2 linked regions of the Homo sapiens genome follow. The protein of the gene in region 2 purifies or fractionates together with the protein of the main gene of each other region. This does not show direct contact. Each region holds a gene or a part of one and is shown on either strand. Other genes may lie near its edges. The genes, in order: PRTFDC1 and C9orf85.

The links.
Region 1: the proteins of C9orf85 (region 2) and PRTFDC1 purify together in Homo sapiens (affinity purification with mass spectrometry; one large-scale study listed by BioGRID and IntAct). This does not show direct contact.

What each region holds. Positions count from the first base shown.
Region 1 is NC_000010.11:24,935,597-24,939,418, forward strand, and holds part of PRTFDC1 (phosphoribosyltransferase domain-containing protein 1), read right to left. Parts: intron 1,772-3,822; coding exon 1,588-1,771; intron 1-1,587. UniProt on the Homo sapiens protein: Has low, barely detectable phosphoribosyltransferase activity (in vitro). Binds GMP, IMP and alpha-D-5-phosphoribosyl 1-pyrophosphate (PRPP). Is not expected to contribute to purine metabolism or GMP salvage.
Region 2 is NC_000009.12:71,942,618-71,946,439, reverse strand, and holds part of C9orf85 (uncharacterized protein C9orf85), read right to left. Parts: intron 1-3,822.

The sequences.
Region 1 (3,822 bases), on a different chromosome or scaffold from region 2:
TCCACTTGAGTGTGGGTAAGACTTGTAAACGTGGTGGGAATTCGCACCAAAGATTAGGTGACTAGTCAGATGACTTTGAGTTCATCAAAAGGCAGGTTACCTGGGTGAACATGATCTAATCAGGTGAGCTATAAAAGAAGGGCTAAGATTATTCCGTCAGACTTGAAGAAGCAAACAGCTAATGGTGTTGTGAACGACCTGTGGGGTAATTGATGCAAACACCTGGGGACAACCCCTAGGAGTGGAGAGTCTACCAACTCCAGCCTACAGTCAACAAGGAAATGGGAACTGAGCTTGCCAACAGTCAGTGATCTTGAAAACCTCAGATGATATCAAAATCCCAACTAACACACTGATTTCATCCCTGTAAGGTTCTGAGCTGAAAACTCAGCTACACCATGCTCAGATTTCTGACCTACAGAAACTTTAAGATAATACACGTGTATGTTGGTTTAAGCCACTACGTTTGTGGTGAGTTTGCCACACAGCAATAGAAGGCCAATTCAAAGAGTGATTCATGAATTAAAATGTGTCAAGTTAGTTTAGTCAACGAGAATATTTTCATGGTTTGACTCCAAGAGCTCCTCACCCAATAGTAAGTTATTTTTAATGTTTTACTATGCATTAAATCAAAAAGCATCAAAGAAGTTAACATCATAGAGGGAGGAGGAGGGAGACTAAGGAAACAACAGCTTTTTTTTTTTGGCAAGAGTTTCATTGTCATCCAGGCTGGAGTGCAGTGGTGCCATACAGCTCACTGCAGCCTCTGTCTCCTGGGCTCAAACAATCCTCCCACTTCAGCCTCTTGAGTACCTGGGACCATAGGCACATGCCACCACACTCAGCTAATTTTAAAAATTTTCTTTTTGTATATAGACAGGGACTCACTATGTTGCCCAGGCTGGTCTCGAACTCCTGGCTTCAGGGGATCCTTCTGTCTTGGCCTCCCAAAGTGTTGGGATTATATGCATGAGCCACTGCATCTGGTTAGGAAACATCTTTGGAGAATAATTCCATTAATTCTGCCCAGTGGTGCCCACAGAAAGACAGAATTAATGGAGTAAACTGGTGGAGGGGCCTTCTGCTGGAGCTCCCTGGCCTTGTTTCCTCACACTTGGCAATGTGCTGTCCCTATAGCCTTCCCTTCTTTACTTCCAGGCCACAACTGCAGCCACCCAAGTACTAAGACTCCTCTCTGGGCTGGACACCCTCCCATAGGTCCCCAGGACCCATAGTGACATCCAGAGTAGAAAAAACAAATCAGTGTTCACACTCTGACCACACACAGTTGTGGGGCTGGGCACCAGGATATAACCACTCACTTTATCACCATAAAAGAAAGCACAAATCATTACTGCTGAGTCTTCCCATATATGTGAAAATAGAGAGAAGGTCCCCACCCCACGCCCTAAATAGTATCATTTGAATTCTTATGTTAGGTTGCCGTATTCTTGCAAATTAAAATTACCCTTCATTTTCATCTCCATTTTTAAAAATTGCACTCTTCATTTTCATAACATTATTGATTCTTTTATCCTAAAGCATTGTTAAATGAAATGTCATAAAGCGGAACTTGTAATAACTTACCCTGTAACTTTTTAGTCTGATGAAATCAACCTTCATTGAGACAAATCGATCTGAATTTCGGCTGATGTTCTTAAGGTGTTCTACGAGATCAGCACAGAATTTGTAACCTCCTTTAAGCACACACAGGACCATGATGTCACTATATCCTATGTCTTTCATAATATCCTTGGCCAGCCGCTCAATTCTGAAAGAAGGATAAAAGATATATTAAGGCACAACTACTTCTGAGTATTTATGTTGCTTTAATGAAATGCAAGATGTATTGTACGTATTCGATTACTCAGAGGAATGTGGGGAAAACCTTGGGAAACAGAAACCCACCGATAGAAAAGCTTTGTTAAGGTTGAACATAAGGTGTTCAAAACATACTGCTTTTTTTTTTTTTTTTTTTTAAGATGGAGTCTCACTCTGTTGCCCAGGCTGCAGTGCAGTGGCACGATCTTGGCTCACTGCAACCTCCACCTCCTGGGTTCAAGTGATTCTCCTGCCTCAGCCTCCCAAGTAGCTGGGAATACAGGCGCCTGCCACTATGCTCAGCTAATTTTTGTATTTTTAGTAGAGACGAGGTTTTGCCATGTTGGCCAGGCTGGTCTCGAACTCCTGACTTCAGGTGACCTGGCCACCTTGGCTTCCCAAAGTGCTGGGATTACAGGCATGAGCCACCATGCCTGGCAGTATTTACTGAATTCTAAAGAAGACACACGATCATAAAAAATGTACATCAGAATATCTGGCATGCTCCTTAAAAAGGAACATTTGGGCCAAGAGTGGTGTCTCACACCTGTAATCCCAGCACTTTAAGAAATCCAAGATGGGCAGATCACTTAAGGTCAGGAGTTTGAGACCAGCCTGGCCAACGTGGTGAAACCCCGTCTCTACTAAAAATACAAAAATTAGCCGGGCATGGTGGCGGGTGCCTGTAATCCCAGCTACTCGGGAAGCTGAGGCAGGAGAATCCCTTGAACCAAGGAGGCAGAGGTTGCAATGATCTGAGATTGCACCACTGTACTACTCCAGCCTGCGCGACAGAGCAAGGCTCCTTCTCAAAAAAAAAAAAAGAACATTTGTTTCCAACATGATGAAGTAAGGAGGTGAACACATCCTCTCCAGAAAAGCAACTATAAAACTGGGCAAAACTGCCAAAAACAACCATCTCATCATGTTGGAAATCAACCAAAGGCATACAACAAACTGAGAAGCATTTAATTCTGAAAACCCTGAACACTGGGTGGAAACAGCATGAGTCTGGGGCATTCTTGTGTGGGGATGCTCTTATTACCCCCCAGCCCCTATCCCCAGCTCTGTTGTTCAAACAGGCAGTTCCACCAAGGTGGTGCACTGCCAGAGGGAGCTCACCTGATAGGGAACACTGTAAGCTAAAATGGTCACCTTGGTGGCAGGGCTCCACTATCCTGAGGTGCAGTCACCGCTGAGCAGTGCACTGGCAGGCTGGCTGGGGATTTGATAGGAAGTTCCAGGGAGGAGGTTAGACAGTCATAGAACAGGGGCACACAATAAGTTCTTCATGCATCTCAATTGACCAGAGGCTGTACATATGCACAGCAGAGTGAGTTCAAGCCACCCACACATCCCTGGACAGTGAAGGCTGTGTACATGTGCAGAGAAGGCACAAGAAAGCTCAGGGGAAAGTAAACATCGAAAGATTTGAAAATGGTTGGAAATTTGAATCTACTTTCAAGTCCCCACACACCCCCATCAGCAGAGAGTGGAAGACTTACTGGCTTGACGTATTTGAGCACAACTTCTAACCAATTGTAGGCCAAACACTAAGCTATTCAAACACAGGGTGATCCCTAGTAAGTGAGGCTTAAAAATAAAAACAAGAGAAAAATAAACCTCACAGACATCAGAAGTCACACAGTGAGGTGGGCAGATCTCTTGAGGTCAGGAGTTCAAGATCAGCCTGGCCAACACGGTGAAACCCAATCTCTACTAAAAATACAAAAATTAGCCGGGCTTGGTGGTCTGCGCCTGTAATCCCAGCTACTCAGGAAGCTGAGGCAGGAGAATCACTTGAACCCAGGAGGCGGAGGTTGCAGTAAGCCCAGACTGTGCTATTGCACTCCAGTCTGGGTGATAAGAGTGAAACTCTGACTCAAAAAAAAAAAAAAAAAAAGTAGAATTTCACAGAGTGGAAGACAAAAAAGGAAACAACAACAGCAATGAATAGAAAATAGTTATAAATACGATAGATACTAAACATTATATCAATAC
Region 2 (3,822 bases):
TAAGATATGTGTATTTCATAGTATGTAAGTTATATCTCAATAAAAACATAATAATAGAAAAGAAAACCTTGCTCATATTTGAAGACTATCATTTCAACAATTCAAATCCTCCCCGTGAGTTGGAATTAAACTGAGAAATTGGGCTGTCCTGAATTGTCAGTTTGTTGAAGAGAACAGAGACTGAAATTTGAGGAAGGGGTGCCAGGGAGAAGCAGCTGGAAGCAAAAAGGCATTTCATTTTTCAGTTTTATGCTTTTGAATTCTCATGTTAAAAAAGTTTTAGAAAAGTTCCCCCTACTAACTTGGTTTCTTCAAACTTAAATAATATGTATTTGTATGTAAATATCTGTAGTGGAGAAAGGGCTTTATAAGGAAAAGTTTTTTATTGTAATTTTCTTTTCAAAATGTGTTGGGAAAGAAGGAAGATAGGAAAAATTTAAATGTGTCATGTATTTTCTCTAATAGTTTTATATTTTTGTAACATACTCATTTGATTCAGGACACAGACTATATATTTTCACTGAGTACTCTGAGAATTCTCTAGTTTGCTTTGGCTGTGAAAGCTTGGTCTTTGCCTATTGTTGGAATAATGAGCAGAAGACATTTAAAATTTTCTTTGCTTCTTTTGTTTTCTTTTAAAATTTCTCAAGGGGAGAAAGAAATGCACCACAAGTATGCAGATTCTTTGGGAGGCTATTAGATATTAAGTTAAAAGCACAATGTTTACATCAGATCATCTGAAAGAAACAATTTTTGAACAGCGCTTGATATTCTTGAAAGTTCTAAACAAAAAGATAAAATATTTGATAAAACATTTATTCAATGAGAAAATATTTTAGAAATATTGTGAAAAACCATAAATTAAGCTGTGAATATATTTCATTTTATTTAATTTTTCTCTTTCTTCAAGGAATCTTCACCATCAGGAAGTGTGAATATATTATGTTTAACTTTGTGATGAGAAATACATTCTGTTACTTACAAATTGTGTATGGGTGCATTCCTTCCTTCTGGACATAGATGGAGAGTCCCAGTTCTGCATGCTACTATATCCCCTGCTTACTCTAGGCCCCTAACTGTTGCCAGAAAGAAGGAAATCTGTGCCTACACACCAAACTCTTCGTCCTCTCAACCTTTGTACTTATTAATAGTTATCATGGACAAAGCTAGCTAAGAAATGCAGAAGCAAAGTTCACATTCATCATTTGTCTTCTCTGTCGTCTAGAACATCTTACTAAGCATTACTTATATTTCCTTAACTGAATGACTTTGAACTATGACTTCAATATGAATGTGATATTAACTTCCTAATTGGAACATTCTTAGAACACAGACATTTCACTACCTGCAATTTTATTGTATATAACACATTCTGCTTGTTAACTAGGAAGCATTCTTTGGTTCCTTGTTTGTTTCTGTATCCAATTTCTGACCAGTTCATCTTGATTTACAAAGCTGTGCAGAGTTTGGAAACTGGTTTCTTTAGGGTGGATCAACAGTAGAACAAAACAGGTCTTTGTGGGAACTTGTCCTGTGAGTGATGTGTGAAGCAGTATAAATAGATATGTTGTACAGGGTTCATATGACTAACAGGCACTACTATCAAATTAAACTTGATTTTTATGTGTTAAGAAATTAATGAGAGTAAGAATGAGAAAGAATAGTACTTTTCACTTAAAAATAGGTGCAGAAGAAAGAAAAGTATATACCTGTTTTACCATTCTTTGGCAAAACAGAAGTGAATTCCAGAGATGTGAGCAAAGAAAGTTAATCCTAGTTCTAGGAATCCTTCTGCCTGGGGGGAAGGAAATGACAATCTAACCTTATTCACATTTATATTTACAATTAACCCTATTTTGGCAATTACTTTTAGTGTATCCCTCATGGTAGAAGATCATAGGTAATTAAGGTTAAAACTTAAGTCTGTCCAAATATAAAATCAAAAGTTTTATAAATACAAAAGCCTATAAAGGTCATTTAGTTCGTTCAACAAGCTACTTTCCAGATTTGTGAAGAAAAAAAAAATCTTCAGTGGAAGAGTCCACTGAACTTAGGAATCAGTGAAAGAAGAAACCCTTACTTATCAAATGAATACTTTTCAAAGTTAGAATAAACTTAAGGAACATCAAAAAACATGCCTACTTAATATATACATAACGTCTTAAAAATGTCTTAGCCATCATTCCTACAACTTTTTTTTTTTTTTGAGACAGAGTCTCACTCTGTTGCCCAGACTGGTGTGCAGTGGGGCAATCTTAGCTCACTGCAACCTCTGCCTCCTGGGTTCATGCAATCCTCCTGTCTCGGCCTCCTGAGCAGCTGGGATTACAGGCGTGCACCAGCATGCCAGCTAATTTTTGTATTTTTAGTAGAGATGGGGTTTCGCCATTTGGCCAGGCTGGTCTCGAACTCCTGGCCTCAAGTGATCCACTTGCCTTGGCCTCCCAAAGTGCTGGGATTATAGGCGTGAGCCACCGCACCCGGCCTATACAACATATATTTTAGAGTCAGTGTTGTTATTGCTGCTTTAAGCATTCTATTTGTTGTCAAACAATATATCTTTAACACAGTAATGCCATACAGAAGTTGGGTGAGAAAGGGCCGGGTGCGGTGGCTCACACCTGTAATCCCAGCACTTTGGGAGGCCGAGGCAGGCAGATCACCTGAGATTGGGAGTTCAAGAACAGCCTGACCAACATGGAGAAACCCCGTCTCTACTAAAAGTACAAAATTAGCCGGGGTGCTGGCGCATGCCTGTAATCCTAGCTACGCTGGAGGCTGAGGCAGGAGAATCCTTTGAACCTGGCATTTGGAGGTTGCAGTGAGCTGAGATCGTGCCATTGCACTCCAGCCTGGGCAACAAGAGCGAAACTCCTTCTCAAAAAAAAAACAAAAAACAAAAAAAAGAAGCTGGGCGAGAAAGGACTTCAACTCCCAAGAAGGTAGCAAGAGCAAATTGTAAATATTATATCTGTATCAACATGCTGATGCTGAAAAATATTTTATAAAGTATCATTTAACAGAAGGAAGATACTACGGTAGTTGAAAAGAAATTTGAATACCATTCAAAAGCAACTAAAATAATTTTTCCTTAGGTTTTTTTTGTACATAATTCTTTCAGAATTGCCAAAGGTAAAACAAAGGCCTGTTTACTCCTCTTAACTGAAAACAAAAAACAAACAAAAACAGAATTAAAAAAATGAAATTCTCAAAGAAAAATGCCAATGCCAATTCCAATGCTAAAAATCTATTTCCATAAACTGGCTTTGTTCTTTTCCCTGCAGTACTCTTCTCCTAAAATAAGGTATTTTATGCCACTACTGCTGTAACAATGTTACTCCAGAAATAGAAACTTTTATATCTTATTTAATCATATTTAAAAGTAGGTACTTTGAAATTTGCTGGAAAGAGTCCCTTATTCTAAATTTGGCTAGAGGATAAAAGATCCCTGGATTTGGGGGCAAGAACTCACGTGACTAATAACAATAATGTGAAAATCTGACTTTTAGGCTGCTGCTTCCTTTTTTTTTTTTTTTTGAGTCGGAGTCTCACTCTGTTGCCCAGGCTGGAGTGCAGTGGCATGATCTTGGCTCACTGCAACCTCTGTCTCCCAGGTTCAAGTGATTCTCCTACCTCAGGCTCCTGAGTAGCTAGGATTACAGGCACACGCCACCATGCCTAACTAATTTTTGTATTTTTAGTAGAGACAGGGTTTTGCCATGTTGGCTAGGCTGGTCTCGAACTCCTGACCTCAAGTGATCCGCCCACCTTGGCCTCCCAAGGTGCTTGGATTACAGGTGTGAGCCACAGCACCTGGCTTTA